Linked DNA regions of Homo sapiens: region 2 is linked to region 1. The links come from fine-mapping of genetic effects on gene expression. A gene starts in region 1. The other region holds a variant in brackets. All regions are shown on one strand. Distances are between the middles of the regions.

Region 1 (10,950 bases):
CAAAACAGGTTTATAAACTAAGTTTATATCTTAGTCAAGAACAAAAAAAAGAAATGTATTCAACCAATCTCAAACACACCCTTCCCCCAGAAAAGTATATCAACAATAAAAGAACCAATGAACAAAGTACCTTCTTTGCACAAAGAAATATTCTAGGTCCTTTAGTAGATACAAAAGATAAAACAAGATCCTTGCCGTTATGGAATTGAGCAGAAAAGATGTAAATAAATAAAAACATATAAGGTAAAAATATTAAGAACTAAATAGCAACATAAAAAGGAAGGAAAATTAAAAATAGTAACAGCATGTGTCTTTAGGCCTCAACATGAGCTATTCTTGGGAAAATCTGACAAAGTGGGCCTGAAATATATACTCGCTGTCCAAATAATACAATGTCAAAATTCATCCCTGCCAGAAGAAGCAGATTGGATTAGCAGACAGTGCCTATGATCTTAAACAAGGAACATCCAAAGCGTCAGTGTTCCTTCCATAAAGATAAGCTACACATCCACAATGAAGGAGAAAAGTGTATCAAGTGCTCTGCTTAGGGCTTGTTTAGAAAACCTGGTTGCTTGCTTACTCTTTTGTTATATGTGTCTCCCTGAACAAACTGATGAAAATTCGTCTCTCTGTATTGCCTCGTTAAGATGTCAGAAAGCTGAAATTAGAAGATCATTGTGGGCCCACAGTTTTATCCCAGGAAATATGCTAATAAGTACTGGGTCCTACATATCCCCCTGCACTTAGCACCCATTTAGTTATTCCCCAGAAAGGCTCAGTTGTGGACAAATTCGTTTCTGTGTCCACACCAACTGTCAAGCACATTAGATCAGTCCAAACCATGCAGATTACTAAAACCTCCCACCTTTAGGATTCTTCAATACAGTATCTTCCATCTGACCCCTCCACAAACAAAAACTCATGTAACTGCCCCCTCAATTAAATTTTTTTAAAACACTTCCAGCTGAAAAGTTTTGATGAAAGAGTCAAGAAACCCATACTTTAGATTCCTTGACTCCAAACTTCCAGTTCTCAAAATTCAGTTATTTCTTACTTTTATCAATACACTTACAGGGGCTCTCTTTTGATCTCGCACCAGTAGACAAACCTCCTGTCTCAAAAAATTACAGCCTACAATTTACTGAAGTCAAGAATTTCCTTTTATACAATAAATGCTTGTCCCCACCCTTTTCTGTGAGAAACAGGGTTTTTTTTGCGCCATCACCCAGATTGGAGTGCAGTGGTATAATCATAGTTCTCTGCAGGCTCGAACTCCTGGTCTCAAGCGATCCTCCCACCTCAGCCTCCTGAGTCACTGGAGTTATAGCCACAAGCCAGCATGCCTACCCCCTAGCCCTTCGTTATCAATTCTGTTAAGCTGGGAATTCTGTGAAACTGGTTCCCTTTTAAAAGTAATTTAGACAGACAGCCTTAGTCGGGGTAAAAACCTTCTGGCAAAAGTAAAAATTAATAATAAAATTCAACCTTGACAAATTATTTGATAGAAAGACAAAGATAGCTTGTAAAGATTGTATTTCAGTTATCAGCTACAGATTAAAAAGAAAAACACACCAACTTACCAACAACTAACGCTCCTCTTTCTGCAAAAGCCAGGGCATAGGCTCGGCCCAATCCTAATCAAAAACAAAATAATCAGAAAGTTGAAGAAATGTCAGCATAATTTTTTTGGTCCGCTCAACTCAATCCCCATTTAAAGAAATTGGTGAACAATTAATTACATTTTAATGATACTCTCAACCTATCCTATCACTGACATTCTCAACCTATCCACTCTCTTCTGCTTGCAGAGGCTGGAAAGCTTAAAACTGTATTTTTCCACCTATTCTACTACCACTTCCTACCATTCTACTTAGCTGCTAGGATGCTGTGAATTGGGTTCCACCATCTGATGCATCTGCATAAAACTTAGAAGGTGTAAGTGAGACAGAGACCACCTTACTGGGAGTTCTGGCTGTTGTTGTTAAGAAGCTAGTTTTCTTGAAAGTTCCTAGGTATTCAGAAACTGACTATAGCAGCGACTTCTTCATTCAGCTCCCTAATCCCTGGATGGCAGCTTCCATACTTCAGGTCCCTAGTGCCAGTGCTACTTGGGCTGTGGCACAGCTCCAATGACAGCCTCAGAGGTATTGCCTCCTCTAATGGATCAATTTCCTATTGTTTCAGGAGTTATTCTAAGAAGACCTGCCTAAAACCTAATTGCCTGTATTGAATCCTTTGCTGCTTAAAATATCTAGTGGTTTCTGTATCCCACAGTGAACCCTGACTACACAGTCATCAAATACAGAAAATATTTAATTCTGACTCAAAGCTACAAGGTGTAAATTTATATATCCAAAAAGAAATTATATATATATATATAGAGAGAGAGAGAGAGAGAGAGAGAGAAAGTTTTGCTTTTTTTCTTTTTTTTTGAGATCCAGTCTCACTCTGTCGCCCAGGCTGGAGTGCAGTGGCATGATCTCGGCTCACTGCAACCTCCACCTCCCAGGTTCAGGTGATTGTCCTGCCTCAGCCTCGCGAGTAGCTGGGACTACAGGCGCCCGCCACCACGCCCAGCTAATTTTTGTATTTTTAGTAGAGATGGGGTTTCACCATGTTGGCCAGGATGGTCTCGATCTCTTGACCTCGTGATCAGCCCACCTCGGCCTCCCAAAGTGCTGGGATTACAGGCGTGAGCCACCACCATCCCCAGCCAAGAGAGAAGTTTTATAGGCATAGAGTATCTCGGGAAAAACACATTAGAAACTGGCAATTAGTGGTTACCTCTGGAGGACAGAACTATGTGGCTAGCAATAAGGGGTGGAAGGCTTACTTCTGGATTGTTTTTCTGTATTGTTTACATTTTTTAATATGTGTATATTTTTTACATTTTAAGTTAATTGATAAATTTCATTGACAAATGAATAAATTTAATTAACAATTTATATTTAGTATAAATTAATCAATAAGTATACAAATAACAAACTGAGATACATAAATTATTAGCCCCTTCCAAAAACAACCCAAGGCCAGGAGTAGTGACACACATCTGTAATCCCAACACTTTATGAGACAGAGGTGGGCGGATCATTTGAGGTCTGGAGTTCAAGACCAGCCTGGCCAACAGGGTGAAACCCCGTCTCTATTCAAACCACAAAAATCAGCTGGGCTTGGTGGTGTGCACCTGTACCCCCAGCTACTTGGGAGGCTGAGGTAGGAGAATTGTTTGAACCCGGAAGGCAGAGGTTGCAGTCAGCCAAGATCATGTCACTGCACTCCAGCCTCGGCAACAGAGCAAAACTCCCTCTCAAACAAAAACAAAAAGAACCAAAAATATACAGTTTTCCAAAACTAGGAAATTTCACCAAATAACTTATTTTAGAATTTAATCCAAGCAGAAGGATCACTTGAGGCCAGGAGTTTGAGACCAGCCTGGGCAACAAAGCGAGACTCCATCTCTTGAAAACATTTAAAAATTAGCTGGGCGTGGTGGCACATGCCTACAGTCCTAGCTAGTCTGGAAGCTGATGCAAAAGGATCACTTGAGCCCAGGAGTTCAAGGTTACAGTGAGCCATGATCGGGTCACTGCACTCCAGCCTGGGTACAGAGTAAAACCTTTAGCTCTGAAAAAAAAAAAAAATTTAATCAACTCTGAATGGGTAAGAGAGAATTTAACCAGTTTATGAACAGCAGGTGCTAAGTTCATAACTGTCTAGTCACAACTCATTGTTTCACAAAATCAATTTTGTGGGTTACAATTACAATTTATAAATAAAACAGAATAGAAAATAAATTTCAGGATGCATTGCCTGTACTACACACTATATCATGAACTGGTTTTAAATACAGATGTATGTGCTTGTGTAAGTGTACTGAGTACTGGTGTAAAATGTACTGCATACCATGTGTAAGTATGCTAATGGTGTCAAAAGAAGCAGTCCCTATCCTTGAATGATTTTCAGATATAGCCCCTGAAAAGGAAAGTCTCCTTAGCGATGGCAAAAACGTCTTAGAATGTAATCCCTGGACCTCCTGCATGAAAATTATCCAAGAGCTGTCAAAAAAGATTTAAAACACCAAGCGTTGTAAAATACATTATTTACAATAAAAGCAAAGTGTAAACAAAATGTTTTCCTAAAAACATTTAGAAGGTATGACTACACCCAAATACATGCCCATGCAGAGATAACCAGACAGCTATGGGTATAAAATACTTGGCTATTCATCAACACTGAAAGCATTTTCTGAAAGGCAGCATAAGAAGCCACTTTATCAATACAGATATGAAAGTACATAGGAATTAATTGACAGAATTCCAGTTTGTAACGTTTAATATATAACTCAAATAATTCATGCATTAGGGCCTTTCCAGGTATAAGGTACTACCAGTGGAGAATCAAAGGTGCATAATGTCAAGATCCCTGCACTTGGAGGTTACAGAGGTCACCCACTGGTGAGAAACTAATGTAAAATCTCACTGCACAGCATCTATGTTGGTATGAATGGTTTGTTTTAATTTTTTGTACTTTAAAAAATGGGGCTATTTCACATAACAATTTTCCATTTTGCCGCTCCTGAAATACAGGCAACTTTCCCACTGGCCGGTCCACTTCGGAATTCTCTGCTCTCCAGTTCCTCAGATGTGCCCATCCTACTCCCATTTTCTTTCTCCATCATACGCCTGACCCCTGTGCGCATTTGAGCTTACAACCTCTGCCAAGACTCCAGTGGATTTCGAGAACAGATTGTGACTTGCTAAGCATACAAACTCCAACGGGGAAGGGCTCTTATCAGACGCCCTCTTTAAAGAAGGTCCTCTCACGAACTTAAAATCTTACGACAGAGGGAAACAAACACTGAACGACCGAATGACTTTTCAGGAGCTGACATCTCTGCGCTTCAGGGGGCGAATTCCAGCCCCCGCCCCTCGCGGCTTTTCAGTCCTTTAAAAGACTAGGCAAAGATCTAAGAGAGTTAATTGCAGGAAGAGTAACAATCGATGCCCACAGATAAGGGTCAGGGAGAACTTTCACCCAGTTTTGCAATCAGCAGCCCAGCCTGGCCTCTCCTCTCAGGCAGGACCTTGGGAAGCCCACACCGGGGTGCTGGGGAGAAGCGGGCTGTACCTGCTTGAGAGACCAGGTGTTTCCGGCTCTTTCCTCCTCAAGAGATGCGGTGCCTCAAGAATAACCATTCCCCTCCCCACCACCTCAGCGGGGTGACCTCAGCTGCGGCTGCGCGCGTATGCCGGCCCGAAAAGAGCAGCCAGCTGCGCCTCAGCAAGGGGCGCGGCCTCCAACCTTCGCATGCTCACCTGCCCCCGCGCCGGTGACCAGTACCACCCGCCCGTCGAACCTCAGCGGTGAGCCCATGAATAAGGCCTGCAACGACACACACACGAACAAGCAGAGCCGCTGGACGCCGACTGCGGGACAGGAGGAGGCGGGGAATGGCGGGGGCGGGACGAGGGTCAGTGACTTGCCGATTTCTGGTAGGAAGATGAGCGCAGAGCGCGCGGCTCCCTTGGAATCCTGGGAAATGTAGTTAAGAGTGACTCCACTCGCTGGAAGACTTGCCTTCCAGGGGCCATTTCTGCGGCTGGAAGCAATGGGAGCTGCTAGGACTTGTGTAGAAGAATAGTTAACTCGACACCTTGCGTTCATCTATTCACCTGTCGTTTCATCATTCACTCAATAAACGTTTTCTGGGTTTAGTTGCTGACCTAGAGAAACAGCATGCGGCCCCTATCCTTGAGGGGCTTCCAGAGATAGCCCCTGGGAAGGAAAGTCCCCCTTAGGGATGGTAAAGATTTGTCAGTGTAATAATCCCTGCACTTCTACATGCAAACATCAGGGGACTGTCAAAATGCAGAGTCCTGGACCCCCACTGCTTACCTCCCAAAATAGAATCTCAAGGGGCAAAAACATTTTGACAAGTGTTCCTAAATGATCTTGCGTTTGTATGTTGAGAACAGTCATAGTTCAATCAACATTTACTGAGCATCTCCTGAGTTTTGATAGGATCCTCAAGCTACTCAGAGTCAGATGGTAAACTTTCAATAACGGTGCAGCCTAGACTTGTGACCAATGTGTGTAAGTGAGCTAATGGTGTCAAAATAAACAGACCCTATCCCCGCTGGGGAGAAAGAGGAAAAACTTTCTGAAGGAGGACCAGGACCTAAAGTGGCGACCCCTGCAAAGAAAGAAGGGCATTACAGGCAGCACAAACACTAGCTAGGTTTGGGGAGAAAGAGGGTAAAGCCACAAAAGCAAAGCCAGCAAGATCATGTTTAGATGTTTGAATTTTGTGCTGAAAACGGTTTTAAGTAGGATTACTCCAGAGAGTGGTGGGAACACATTTACACTATGGAAAGATCACTTTGCCCATTATGGAGGATTGATTGGATGTTGCGGGAAGTCATGGACCCCAAACAGAGGGACCTGCTAGAGCCGCAGCAGAGGAACATAAATTGTGAAGATTTCACGGACATTTATCAGTTCCCAAATAATACTTTTATAATTTCTTATGCCTGTCTTTACTTTAATCTCTTAATCCTGTTATCTTCGTAAGCTGAAGGTGTACGTCACCTCAGGACCACTGTGATAATTGTGTTAACTGTACAAATTGATTGTAAAACATGTGTGTTTGAACAATATGAAATCAGTGCACCTTGAAAAAGAACAGAATAACAGCAATTTTTAGGGAACAAGGGAAGTCAACCATATGGGCTGACTGCCTGCGGGGTTGGGCAAAAACAGCCATATTTTTCTTCTTGCAGAGAGCCTATAAACGGACGTGCAAGTAGGGAAGATATCACTAAATTCTTTTCCTAGCAAGGAATATTAATATTAATACCCTGGTAAAGGAATGCATTCCTGGGGGGAGGTCTATAAACGGCTGCTCTGTCTTATGTGGTTGAGATAAGGACTGAGATATGCCCTGGTCTCCTGCAGTACCCTCAGGCTTACTACGGTGGGGAAAAACCCGGCCCTGGTAAATTTGTGGTCAGACCAGTTGTCTGCTCTCGAACCCTGTTTCTGTTGTTTAAGATGTTTATCAAGATAATACATGCACTGCTGAACATAGACCCTTATCAGTAGCTCTGCTTTTGCCCTTTGTCTTGTGATCTTTGTTGGACCCTTATTAGTAGTTCTGCTTTTGCCCTTTGTCCTGTTCCCTCAGAAGCATATGATCTTTGTTCTGCTTTTTGCCCTTTGAAGCATGTGATGTTTGTACCTACTCTCTGTTCTTACACCCCCTTCCCTTTTGCAACCCTTAATAAAAAACTTGCTGGTTTGAGGCTCAGGTGGGCATCACGGTCCTACTGATATGTGATGTCACCCCCGGCAGCCCAGCTGTAAAATTCCTCCCTTTGTACTCTTTCTCTATTTCTCAGCTGACTGACACTTATGGAAAATAGAAAGAACCTATGTTGAAATATTGGGGGCAGGTTCCCCCAATAATTAGAGGTGGGCAAGGAGAACATAGAAAAGATTTGGGGGAAATTATGGAAACCAGAAGTAAGGCAGAGGAAATGTTGAAGAAGAAATGTTGAGATAAACTGTATTTGCAAATGGAACTGACAGGGATAGAAGGCAGGGAAATTCTGGGCAGAAGAGGGCAGGTCCCCAGTGAGGGCTCCAACCTCAAGCCTGAAAACACAGCCCAAAGTGAGAACATGCATCCCTGTTTTCCCTCTTGAATGTTGCCTTTTCCAAAACCACCTATGGTCCCCCTGCCCCCCATCCTGTGCCCATAAAAACCCCAGGCTCCAATGGCAGAGAGGAGAGGAGAGAAGAAACAGCTCGACTTCAGAGGTATGGCTTAATGGCGTTGCTCCTGGGGAAGATCACCTTCTCACTCCATCCCCTTTTCAGCTCCCCTTCCCATTGACAGCCACTCTCATCGGCAATAAAATCCTCTGCATTCACCATTATTCAATTTGTTCCTGTGACCTGATTTTTCCTGGATGCCAAACAAGAGCTCAGGTGCCACAGGTGTGACACTAAAGGCTGTCACACTGACCCTCTGCCCTCACTGGCAGAGAGCAAGTGCCTCACACCAAAAAACAGAGGGCCTACTGAGCTGTTTAACATTTAAGCCATCAGTGGATGGCAAAGTTAAAAGAGCACTGTAACACACACCCTCTGGGGCTTCAGGGGCCTTAGGTACCCCTCTAGACACTGCCAAGGGCCACATAGAGTTTTGCTCCTGCATGCACTGGCCCCAGCTCCTGCACCCACTCACCTGTGCTCCCCGTTCCTGTGGAACGCAGTGGGACCCAGTGAATGGAGTCCACCCCTGCCAGACCCAAAGCGGCCAGCTAGTTCTAGATCCTATGTGCTCCAGTTCCTGCCCCCACCCATGAAGGGGTCAGGAAAATTTCCTGCTTCAGAACTAGTCTTTTTGATTAATTAGATGTAGATATGAGAAAAGAGCAACTGAAATAATCCTATATTTTGATTTGAAAATCTAGATTACGATGGGCCATTCATCAAAATAAATAGTGGAGAAAGAGTGGCTTTGGAGGGGTTATGGCTTCAATTTTAGACAAACTGCATCTGTGAAGGGGAAGCAAAACTATGGCTAGAGACACCTAGCAGACAGCTATGGTTCCAGAGCTCTGACAGCTTGGTTTCTGTTATAAATAAAGTTTTGGTGCCACAGAAGAAATAGCACTCGAATATAAAATTTTTTTTTCTTCTCAGCAACGCAGTTTACTTCTATAGAAGGTTGCACTCTCACAGATGGAGCAATGGTGAGCGCACACCCGGACAAGGGAGGGGAAGGGGTCCTTATTCCTGATGCATGTGGCCCCTGCTGCTGTGTCATTCCCCTATTGCCTAGGGTTAGTCCACACAGGTTAAACTAATTCCAGTTGGCTAATTTAAAGAGAGTGACAGGGTGAGTGGTTTGGCAGGAAAAATGGTTATGACAGAGAGGACATCGGAATGAGCCAGGGTAGAGAATGAGCAGGTAATCAGAATGAGACAGGGTGGAGCAGGTAATCGGAAAAGGTTGCTTTACGAGGAAGTTAAGTTTCAAAGTAGAAGGCAAAGAATTGAATACACTGACATACTGATTCTTTTAAAAGAAATTTAGAACTCATATCTAACAACTCCTCCTCTTGCATTTCCTTACAGCTCTTTCTCTTCAAACTTCTTTAACATGTCTTGGCTTAGTTGTTCTGCTTGATTTTCCAAAAGAATAAGCTTCTCTGGATAAGGTGGAGGATAGTTAAGGGAGGATTTAGTAAGTGCCATTTCTATGAGCCTCTGCACCAACCCACAGATGTATGGTATGATACAGCACCCAACAAGAGTAAGTACACCCATTACGGCTGCAAGGGAAGTTAAGAATTGAGGCTATTATTCCTTTCCATTTACCAAACCACTTTTCTAGGCATCCTGTAAAGGGCCCATTTACCCTTAGTTGCTGGCTAACTCACTGGACAGAGCAGTCAGACCTTGCAATGCCTTTGTTATACTTCCATTAGGGGCGGTATTGTTTGGGATGAAGGTACAACACTGAGTTTTAATCATGATGCAAACTCCTCCTCTTTCTGCTAATATCATGTCTCAGGCTATCCTATTTTCCCAAGCCATCTGGCTAGTAGCCCCTAATTGCTCAGCTATTCTTTTAACAGCATCTCTAGGGTAGTTAATAAATCGCTGTTGGTTGCAATAAATGTAGTTTATCAAACCTACATTTTTATTAATTGTAACTTACCAAAATACTGGCTGAAATCCTGCAGCTATTTGATTTTGGGCTTTAAATTGATCTGGTATTCCCAGTGGGACTCCAATTGCGTCTAAATAGACATGAGAGTTGAAAGACCCATAAGGGGCCTCTTTCACTTTACGATGTCTTATTTTTCCTTCCTCCAGTTGATGAAATGCCAGAGTAAAAGAGATAACCAATTGAATTAGACCATAAGTACTGCTCTAATTATTTGGCAGAGTGTCCAGTAAAGGTCCTCCCTAATACCACCATACAACCAGTCAGGGATGAATAAGGGCAGACTGTTGGGTCAGCTCTTGGAAGTGCCTGACTTCCCTGCATCCTGTTAAGTCTCCAGGGAATGCCAAATTTTTCCCCTTGTCATTGGAGACATGAGGTAAAATTGGCTTTGGAAGATGGAGGCTGGATGGCCCTTGGGGGCTGACCCACAGCGTGTTGAACTTCAGGAAATAGCAGAGAAAGAGCTTGGCACAATTTGTTATTCCAGGCGGTAGAATCTTGAAAAAGAGCTACCATGCACTCCATGTCCAGTTGATTTGAGGACCATCCCAGTGGAAAGGGAACAACCTGGGCCTCTGGCCTACTGTGCACACAACAGTAACAGTCGCTTTTGTTTCAAGTGCGAACGGAATATTTAATCCATTTTAACCAGGGATTTACATCTTTTTACTCTGTTTCAATGGCTATGGTTTGCCTTAGGTCTTCTATTTCTACTACTGAGACCTTGCTTTTGTCATTTGGCATGAGGCGAGGCATAGTTTGATTTCATAGGTTTGGGAAAGGGGCAGTTGTAGGAGGTGGAGGAGGGAGAACAAACCACATCTTAAAGAAACCTATAGGATCCTTTCCAGTGACCTCTACTCCTAAACCATAAAAATGCTCAAAAGTGGGGTTAGAGTTGCTAGTGGTAGGAATAGTAATGGCTATAGGCACTGGATTCAGAAAGGAAAGGAAAAGATAGATAGACTACACTTTTCTTAGCTTTAGTTTGGTAGGGCTTGATCCAGGAACAATGGCCCATGATTCTGATGATAACGGCGCTTACTTGACTCGGGTGTGATGTGTCCAACCCCCTTCCGCGGTACGAACAACAGTCTCAGTGGTTAGCAGCACTAGGTAGGGTCCTTCCCAGGCTGGCACAAATTTTCCTTCTTTCCACCCTTTGACAAGAATGTGATCCCCAGGCTGGTGCTGATTTACTGGAAATT
Region 2 (10,950 bases), 31 kb after region 1:
CCCAGGCAGACCACACCCCTATTATCCACCCTCCTAATCATCTTCATCCTTTTCACAGTAAGAATTCTACTGATCTTTGCTGGTTGTTAGAACTCCTCCCATGTTTGTTCTCCTTGCTCCCACCTTATGGATAGCTCTATTCTGAAGATTCACTCTTCTAAGGGAGACACTAGGCTTTTTGGCTTAGTCCGAACAGTGTATGGAAAGCTGGGAGAACATGAAGAGATATTACGATGAAACCGCATTCTTTTTCTTTTTTGCTGCCTAGTCTCTAAATTACCTTCCCATTGTTGGATAATACCTTACTTGTTTCCTACTTCAGAGTCTGAAAATACTGGGTACTCTTCTTCCCAGCCTCCACTGCAGCCAGGCATAGCACATGACCTAAGTTCTGCAAATCATGTACTTCCTCCCAAGGCACTGAATTGAGAAATAATGATTGATGGGGTGAATGACAAACTATACAGAATGCATTCTGGTGATGGATAGTTGGAGGAGAAATGGCATCAGTTCTAGCAGGAGTGAGCAGGATTCAGTGGTGGTAGTCTCAGGGGTGCAAGTGGCGTCATCTAATATCCAGCTGTGAGGATAACAGTATCTTCATCATACCAACTCTGTGGCATGATTTAGACATAGCTCCTGACTGCAGAGCCTCGGAATCTAGCTTTCTTCCCCCCACCTAGAGATTCTGGTGGCCACCTTGTGTCCTTTTAATAATCCTTCCGTACTTAAATCAGACAGAGTCAGTTTTTCTTGCTTATGAATAGGAACCCTAAGCAAGACAGTTATTTCCAAAGTATTATTCTTGTTACATAGGTCGTGGCTGAAGCCATAGTTCTTGTAATGATTTTAAACAGATTCTGTGCCTATCACTTCCCCCATCCCTTGCAGGGTCTCAGCGGCCTACCAATAGCAAGATTACATTGTTCTATTAACAGGTTTCCTCTGGGTATGAAGAAACCTTAGGTTGATTATTTTTACCAAAAATATTCCTAAATCAGCCACAATTTCCAACATCAGAGATTACATTTGGACATGTAGGAAAAAAAAAAACATTATATATACTAAGCACATACAATGGGATTCACAAGGCAGGGTGAATCCCATTGAGAGCCAATTCTCCATAGACCTTTCATGTTTCTGCTCATCTTATGACAAGAGGTACTAACTACCCTTTTGTCCTAGACTATCGTTTTAAGGATGTTTGTATAATGAATAAGACAATGAAATGGAAAATAGAGATAGCATTTGCTTATGGAACAAAGGACAGGTTTGTTTACTGTCCAGTGTCATAAATATAACATCTCCCTCTTGAGCAAAGTTCGGGAAGGTTTGCTTGCAGCCATTATAAAAGATCCAGGTTTCCTAGCCTCAGAGTTCTTCAGCTGTGGCACAAAACTGCTGCATGCTCAGCACCAACCTAGGCCCCTCTGCCTCTCACTCATGGAGCATGGCAAGGACAAGGAAACCAATGAAAACATGAAACTCATAGAACTTGTGCTGTAAGCAATAAAAGCATTTGTCTCTGACCCTGGAGTCTGGTATCTTGTCTCAGCATCCACTGAACTAGTTAGGCTAACTAGTCAGCTTGCCAGTAAGTTATAATCTCAGACCCTTCACAGTTCTTGACAAATCCATACTAAGAAAGAAAAATAAGCAACATATAGTGCAAAGAAAAGAGCTCATAATTCTAACCAAGGTGGCATGAAAGACTTCAAGAAGAAGGAGGCATTTGATTTAAGCTTGAAGGATTTAGGTAGGCATGCCATTAATTGGAATAGGAAACATCAGAAGAGGAGTGAGTTTATGGAGGGCAATGAGTAGAAAAATTGGGGGAACAGAGATGGAGTCAATAGATTTCGTTTAACATGTGGATTTTAAGATGCAAATGAGGACTTTTTGTAGACAACTCAGAAAGCATCTGGAAAATTAGTTTTAGAAATTAAGAGGGAATCAAGAGTTTAAGATATAAAAGAGAACAACATGAAAATAGAGTTGGTGTCTTGGAAGTGGACGAAATTATCCAGCCAGAATATGCAGAGCAAGAGAAAGACAGAGAAATAGAGAGATACACACAAAGAGAGAGACAGAGAGAGGAGATCCCCACATTTAAGACCCAGTTAGAGGAAAGGCAACAATAACAACTGAGGAAAAGTGAGTGAGAGCTGTGACAGTGACCAGAAAAATATAGCATTCACCAAAGGGAGAGTAGAAACTGAAGAGGTCAATAGTGTCGATGCTGCAGATAATATAATTAGAAAAAGTGTCATCTTAATGGACTTATCTTACTTGGGGAGAAGGAGAAATTTTCTGCATCTTAGGCCATGATTCAACCTTGGCTCAGTGAGGACAGACATAACTAGCCCCTCTTTTGTATGGCCCCACTTAGTATCTCTCCCCAGAGGAAGGAAGAAAGACCAATCTGACTGAAGAGAGCCAGAGGTATTCGCTGAACCACATTTACTAACGTGAGGATACCATGCTCTAAAGGCAGTAACAAGCCCCACCGTTTCTGTTCCACTTCCTACACCTATATGGTGGGCTTCCTTCTGCTTCCTTTATTCTGTCGCATGGATTATCAGCAAGCTGATCAAGACTGTTACTCAGCTAGTAAGAGGCTAAGCCATCTCCTTTCTGTTCTTTATCTTCCAGTATGGCAGTTTCGTCCAGACTATCACTTGAAACTATGGAGTGGCCAGCCTAGACCTGCCTGGCATTGGGCACTGGAACAAGCATACTCCTTTTTGTAATCTTATTTGTTTTCATTTGGTTCCTATGGGCATAGATTTCCTATCTCTGCAGTTACAGAACTTGAGGTATGAAATAGGGAGAGGCCCACACTGAATCCTGAACATTTTGGTGCTCAATGTGGCAACAAATGAGAGCTACCATCTGAAACCAAAATATGGCAAGGAGAGATGAAAACTTTTGTATTTACCATGGCTGATTTGAGCTGTCACTGAGCTGCAGCTGTCTTTAGATGGCAGCTATGCAGGCCAAAAGTATGCTTTAGCATTTTTAAACCACAGTATCTGAGTTTAATAAGAAAATGGATCCATCTGGGGATCAACATAGGCTTTCCAGGAACTCATATTGCATAAGTCAGGATCAAGTCTTGAATGGAGATAGAAATTCCTTTCCTGGGGTCACAAGAAGCTTTCTAAGGGGCTCTATACTGCAACGGCAGCTGGATTTTGCATGAACTGTAGAACCATTGCTAGAGCCAGGAACAGAGCTTAGACTTGCTCTTTTTCTCAAGCTCAGCTTACTAGGTGGAAATCTCATAGATTTTTTTTTCTGATTTTTTTCTCCTTTATCTTATTCCTTAGCCTTGGACAGATGATCCAGGTTGAACCTGCTGTAGCAAGAAAATGTTAGCAAGAAGGAAATTTTTAAGCATCCTTTGGAGTAGCAAAGTCAGTGTTACTAATCGATGCCTAGCAAATGTCATTGCACCCTAACTGGGCCTCTGAAACCTTGTTATGTTGGTAACAAAAGGTACAACACAGTGGGCCGGGCGCGGTGGCTCACACCTGTAATGCCAACACACTGGGAGGCCGAGGTGGGATCACGAGGTCAGGAGATCGAGACCATCCTGGCTAACACAGTGAAACCCCGTCTCTACTTAAAAAGTCCAAAAAATTAGCTGGGCATGGTGGCAGGCACCTGCGGTCCCAGCTACTCGGGAGGCTAAGGTAGAAGAATGGGGTGAACCCAGGAGGTGGAGCTTGCAGTGAGCCAAGATCATGCCACTGCATTCCAGCCTGGGTGACAGAGCAAGACTCTGTCAAAAAAAAGAAAAAAAGAGTACATAGAAACACAACTAGTCTTATTACACAAGATATTTCCCAATTGAGTTTAGGCTCACAGACCCTGGCCAACTGGCACAGTATGACTGGTAACCTGGCAAGCAACCTGACAAGCTCAAACAAGCTTTTCTGTTTTCTCCATTCTGCAAATTATCCTAAATCGCTTGGCTGGCAACTGCAATAAAGATCTAAATTGTGCTGGGATCTGGGAAATATCATTTTTGCTTGTGATAACTGCTGCTCATGTTTCCTAAGTATTGTGGGTGTGTAGCTGCTGCTACACTGGTCTTATGCATCCTGTGCTCTTTGGAAAAGTAAGACAAGTGAGAGAATTGCAGTTGAGTTCATCCCACTTTGGAGGTGCAAGAGGAGCTAGCATTCATTCTAGTATAACAGCACAAGATACGGTGATAGCATCCAGTGGTGACTAGTGTATAAAAGTGATGCTTTCACTGCATATTCTCACTCATAAGTAGAAGCTGAACAATGAGAAAACATGGACACAGAGAGGGAAACATCATACACTGGAGCCTGTTGGGGCATGGGGGGCAAGGGGAGGGAGAGCATTAGGACAAATACCTAATGCATGTGGGGCTTAAAACCTAGAGGACGGGTTGACAGGTGCAGCAAAACACCATGGCACACATATACTTGTGTAACAAACCTGCACATCCTGCACATATATCCCAGAACTTAAAGTAAAATAAAATAAAATAAATAAACATTTCCACATTTTTATAAAGTGGTGTTTTTAATAAAAGCAGTACCATGTTTTCCATTTTAAACTTATCTCTTGGGCACACAGATCCCTATGCAGGAGGTAAGATTTCATCATGCATACATTCAGCCTTTATTTATTAAGGGCTTGTATTAGTCTGTCCTCATGCTGCTAATAAAGACATACCCAAGACTGGGTAATTACAAAGGAAAGAGGTTTAATTGACTCATGATTCCACATGTCTGGGAAGGCCTTACAATCATGGTGGAAAGCAAATGAGGAGCAAAGCCACATCTTATATGTCGGCAGGCAAGAGAGAGCTTGTGCAAGGGAACTCCCATTTATAAAACCATCAGATTTTGTGAGACTTATTCACTACCACGAGAACAGTATGGGGAAAACCACCCCCATGATTCAATTATCTCCCACCAGGTCCCTCCCATGACACATGGGAGTTATGGAAGCTAGAGTTCAACATGAGATTTGAGTGGGGACACAGCCAAACCATATCATTTCACCCGTGGCCCCTTCCAAATCTCATGTCCTTACATTTCAAAACCAATCACACCAGCCAGGTGTGGTGGCTCACACCTGTAATCCCTGCTCTTTAGGAGACTGAGGTAGGTGGATCGCCTGAGGATAGGAGTTTTAGACCAGCCTGGCCAAGACGGTGAAACCCTGCCTCTATTAAAAATACAAAAATTAGCCAGGAATGGTGGTGCATGACCGTAGTCCCAGCTACTCAGGAGGCTGAGGCAGGAGAATTGCTTGAACCTGGGAGGAGGAGATTGCAGTGAGCTGAGATAGTGTCACTGCACTCTAATCTGGGTGAAAGAGTGAGACTCCATCTTAAAAAAACAAAAAACAATCATGCCTTCCCAACAGTCCCCCAAAGTCTTAACTCATTTCAGCATTAACTCAAAAGTCCACAGTCCAAAATCTCATCTGAGACAAGCAAGTCCCTTTTGCCTGTGAGCCTGTAAAATCAAAAGCAAGTTAGTTACTTCCCAGATACAATTGGGGTACTGGAATTGGGAAAATACACCTGTTCCAAATTGGAGAAATTGGCTAAAACAAAGGAGCCACAGAACCCATGCAAGTCCAAAATCCAGAGGGGCAGTCAAATCTGAAAGCTCCAAAATGATCTCCTTTGACTCCATGTCTCACATCCAGGTCATGGTGATGCAAGAGGTGGGTTCCTATGGTCTTGGGCAGCTCTGCCCCAGCTTTGCAGGGTACAGCCCCACTCCTGGCTGCTTTCACGGGCTGGCATTGAGTGTCTGTGGCTTTTTCAGGCACACAGTGCAAAGTGTCAGTGGACTTACCATTCTGAGGTCTGGAAGACGGTGGCCTCTTCTCACAGCTCCACTAGGCAGTGCCCCAGTGGGGGCTCTGTGTGGGGCCTCAACCCCACATTTTCTCTTCTGTACTGCTCTAGCAGAGGTTCTCCATGAGGTCCCCACCCCTGCAGCAAACATCTGTCTGGACATTCAGAGTTTCCATACATCTTCTGAAATCTAGGCAGACATTCCTAAACCTTAATTCTTGACTTCTGTGCACCCTCAGGCTCAATACCATGTGTAAGCTG[C/T]CAAGGCTTGGGGCTTACACCTTCTGAAGCCATGGCCTAAGCTATACTTTGGCCCCTTTTAGCCATGGCTAGAGCGACTGTGTGGTAGGGTATGAAGTCCCTAGACTGCCTACAGCAGAGGGACCCGGGGCCCAGTCCACAAAACCAGTTTTTCCTCCTAGGCTGCCAGGCCTGTGGTGAGAGACGCTGCTGTGAAGACCTCTGACATGCCCTGGAGACATTTTCCTCTTTCTCTTGGTGATTAACATTTGGTTCCTCATTTCTTACACAAATTCTGCAGCCAGCTTGAATTTCTTCTCAGAAAATGGGTTTTTCTTTTCTATCTCATTGTCAGGCTGCAAATTTTCCAAACTTATATGCTCTGCTTCCCTTTTAAACATAAGTTCCAATTTCAGATCATCTCTCTTAGGTTCAAAGTTCCACAGATTTCTAGGGCAGAAGCGAAATGCCACCAGTCTCTTTGCTAAAGCATAACAAGAGTGACCTTTGCTGTAGTTCCCAACAAGTTTCTCATCTTCATCTGAGACCACCTCAGCCTGGATTTCATTGTTTATATCATTATCATCATTTTGGTCAAAACCATTCAACAAGTCTCCAGGAAGTTCCAAACTTTCCTACATTTTTCTGTCTTCCTCTGAGCCCTCCAAACTGTTTCAACCTCTGCCTGTTACCCAGTTCCAAAGCCGCTTCCGCATCTTCGTGTGTCTTTACAGCAGTGCCCCACTCTACTGGTACCAATTTACTCTGTTAGTCTGTTCTCATGCTGCTAATAAAGACATACCCCAGACTGGGTAATTATAAAGGAAAGAGGTTTAATTGACTCACAGTTCCACGTGGCTGGAGAGGCCTCACAATCATGGCAGAAGGTGAATGAAAAGCAAAATCACATCTTACAAATCGGCAGGCAAGAGAGAGTTTGTTCATGGGAAATCCCACTTATAAAACCATCAGATCTCGTGAGACTTATTCACTACCAGGAGAACAGTATGGGGGAAACTGCTCCTGTGATTCAATTATCTCCCACCAAGTCCCTTCCACGACATGTGGAAATTATGGGAGCTACAATTCAAGATGAGATTTGTGTGGGGACACAGTCAAACCATATCAGGGCTGCTATGGGTCAGGCACTGTTCTTGGTGCTGCAAACAAAATAGACAAGGTCCCTGCATTTATAGATCTTATATTCTAGAGAGAAAAGAGTTGATAAACTACAAATAAATAATTCCAGATAACTGTAAGTGCTAAGGGAAGATATTTATTAATTTAACAGATGTCATTATTTTCTAGGCACTTTCTTAGTATTTTACAAATATTAACTTATCTGATTTCATAACGACCTAAAAAGTAGATTTTATAATTATCCTCATTTTCAGATGAGAAACCCTTCCACAAAAAGGTTAAATAACTGCTAGCATAGAGTGAAGTGAGAATTCAAACCCCAGTGATTTTTGCCTAAAACTGGATAATTCTATTCAAAAGAGACTGGAAGCAGAGACAGGGAGGGGAGGTACAAATCTACAGAAGGTATCCTGGAAAGGCTTACAGGGAGGTGAATTTTGAGCTGAGACCTGAATGTCAACAAGGAACCAGTCAAGCAAGCATTAGGACAGACCCTTCTGGGCAGAATGAAAAGCACATGCAAAAGCTCTGTGGGGAAAACACCTTGACTTCCTGGTACATGAGGAGGTCAAAGAAGTGGGCAAGGACCAGATTGTGTGGAGCCTTGTAGGCAATAGTTACAAGTATGGATTTTCTTCTAATTATAATAGAAATCCCTTGAAAAGCCAGGGAGTAAAATAATCTGATATGTAAAACCACAAATTTCATTACATATACTTATAAGAATGTATGTGCCTAGAGAAAAGCCCAGGGAGGGGCATACCAACTGATAACGGTGGTTAGTTCTGGAGATATGTTCGGGATCATGACAGTGATGAAAGAGACTTTCACTTTATCTTTTTTTGTTCACATGAAAATGTACTTGTGTAATTATACAAATGAATAATTTTAAAAAAACAATTTAAGCTCCTTAAAATACCATGTATTGCATAGCGTAAAACCTACTCAATTACAAGCAGATGCACCATGCTAAAGAAAACACAATATTGGGCAGCTTGTGTAGCCTGAGTTGTATGATGTGTATCTCCCTTAGAGAAACCACAAGCAGCCATGTGTATTGCATAATAAGCTAATCAGCTTAGGAAGCAGAGAATTTGGGAGTACTGAGGAGAAGCATGCTAAATAAAGCTGCATGCTGAGGCTGAGAAAATGCAATTTAGGAATAAGAACTTAGCTGGTTTCTCTAACTGGAAAGCCGTGGATGATCTGTGCGTTGTATAAACTATGAAAACCACTTTCAGTGTAAAGTTGAGCTACTGCCAGCATTTGTCTCTCTTTACAGAATGTACCCAGTGAAATGTTAATTAGGAGTAAAACTGGCTTACCTCATTCACCTATTCCTTTGACACTTAAGCCACTTGGGATTTACCACCCACTTTCACATTTTGTTACGTTCAGTCTTCCAACTTCCTGTTCACAACCCCTCTTTTATCACTTAGTTTATTTCCTGCTGTCTTGCGCTCCACCTCAACTGCTTTTATTCTGCTTGGGGACTTCAGAATCAATGTGCATTGGACCCACTGAATTGGACCCATCCAATACTTTGTATCCTAGTTAATGCTCTCATTTCCAGTGACTTTTTAAATTTAACAACTGCTAGCACTCTCGCCCATACTCACAACCCTGAATGTGTTCATTACCAAGAACCTTACCACTTCTGAAATCTCATGTCCGAATGTCCTGCCTTTCTAGCACAAGTGCTCCCACTGCAGAAGTCTCCAGCACCATGACCTCCAGTGCATCCTTGGCGCTCCTAATACCCAGACCCTTTTCTGTCTTACTTTCTTGTCTTGCTTAGACTCTATGACCCACCATTACAATCTACAGCCTTGCTTCTCTTTTCCTTCTATCATGCTTTCCTAGAAAACTTTGCAGTTTTCCAGTTTAAAATGTTTTCTAACTTCTAACATTTCTTTCTTGATGCATGAGTTATTTACAAGTTATCTTCTTAAAATCAAACAAGGAAATTTCCTAGTCATCTTTTTGTCAATGATTTTGAGCTTAATGCATTATTATCAAAAAACATTCCCTGATTTCAAGCCTTTTAAATATAGGGAAGCCGGCTTTATGATCCACCATACTGTCAATTTTAACAGGGATTCCATGTATACTTGAAAAGAATGGGTATTTGCAGTTTGGGGCTCAGGGTTCCATATGTGGTCATTAGGTCAAGTTTGTAGATCATATTGTTCAAGTCTTCTGTATCTTTATGGATATTTTATCTGCTTGCACTATCAGTTACTGACAGAAATATGTTTAAAATACCCCACTATGATTCAGGGTTTTTCTAAATCTCTTGTTATTCTTTCCATTTTTTTGCTTTATACGTATTTGAAGGTTTGCTATTGTCCTGTGATCCATTCTATACTATAGAAGACCAGACCCCAGGAAACTATCTACAACTTCCCGAGGATCATGAGGACCTTAGCAGGTTTACTTTTTTAAATTCTAGAGAAATTGTCTGTTTAGTGTCTCGCTGGAATACAATCACTATGGCCAAGGAGTGTCTTGGCAAGCCAATGCTGAGTCATAAGCTAATTCTTTTTTTTTTTTTTTTTTTTTTTTGAGACGGAATCTCACTCTGTCGCCCAGGCTGGAGTGCAGTGGTGCAATCTCAGCTCACTGCAAGCTCCGCTTCTCAGGTTCACATCATTCTCCTGCCTCAGCCTCCCGAGTAGCTGGAACTACAGGCACCCACCACCACACCTGGCTAATTTTTTGTATTTTTAGTAGAGACAGGGTTTCACTGTGTTAGCCAGGATGGTCTTGATCTCCTGACCTCATGATCCACCCGCCTCAGCCTCCCAAAGTTCTGGGAATACAGGCGTGAGCCACCCCATCTGGCCGTCATAAGCTAATTCTTTAGGGCAAGATCTAAGACTGTCAGCTCCTACAAAAACGTGGAGAAATTCCTCAAAAAAAAAGTGGACTACTGTTTTGCACAGACAATACATTTGCACTGCAACTAGCTTTTTACAATTGTAAATAGACAGCATGACAACTCTTTGGAGTTAGCATTAGCAACTCAGATTCAAAGCAGTAGCCCATCCACTGTAGACCGTGGGAGGGGCCTAAGTATTTAACATAGATGAGCAAAGAATATAGAATCAGAAAATGCAAGAAAATTTCTGGAAAGAGTGATACAAGTTACTTTTACTTAAAAGTCACACCTCAGTTTGAATTTCAACACCTTCCCTATCTATATAAACGTGTATAAATTATTGACCTACTCTAATCCCCTTCTGAAAGATATAATTTAAGTGCCTAGTAAATACTAACTGCTCAATAAAGGTTAATTTCCTACATAAGGAGGGAGAGTTTACTCTAGAACACCACAGTGATTATAACTTATATTCATAGATGATTGGATATATTTATGCTTAATTATGCATAGAGTTCATAGTATAAACTATCGGTTTAGTCTTTCTCATCTAAATCTCAGTTTTAAAGAATCTCTTCAACATTTGGATATGAGAGGTGGCTTCACAGGTATATTAGTTATTATGCTGTTTAACAAATCACTCCAAAACCTAGACACTTACATCACAAACACTCCTTTATTATCTCTGTTTATGTGGGTTGGAAATTTGGGCATAGCTTAGCCAGATACCTAAAGCTTGCAGTCTCTCAAAATGTGTCTCACAAGGCAATCAAGGTGTCCACTTCAACTGCAATCATTTCAAGACTCATCTGGGGGAGGACCCACTCTGAGTTCA

The links.
Region 2: its variant is fine-mapped to the expression of HSD17B4 in blood mononuclear cells (TOPMed, PIP 0.96).

Annotation. Positions count from the first base shown.
Region 1 is chr5:119,446,999-119,457,948 of GRCh38, reverse strand. It overlaps HSD17B4 (hydroxysteroid 17-beta dehydrogenase 4), which reads right to left and starts at 5,452. Exons shown (of 24, transcript NM_000414.4): 1 at 5,316-5,452; 2 at 1,581-1,634. The coding sequence starts at 5,373. RefSeq lists an enhancer at 5,302-5,351.
Region 2 is chr5:119,415,716-119,426,665 of GRCh38, reverse strand. No RefSeq gene overlaps it. Among named protein-coding and RNA genes, the nearest start is that of HSD17B4, 31 kb to the left of the region's middle. The variant C/T (reference allele first, on the strand shown) is at 6,116.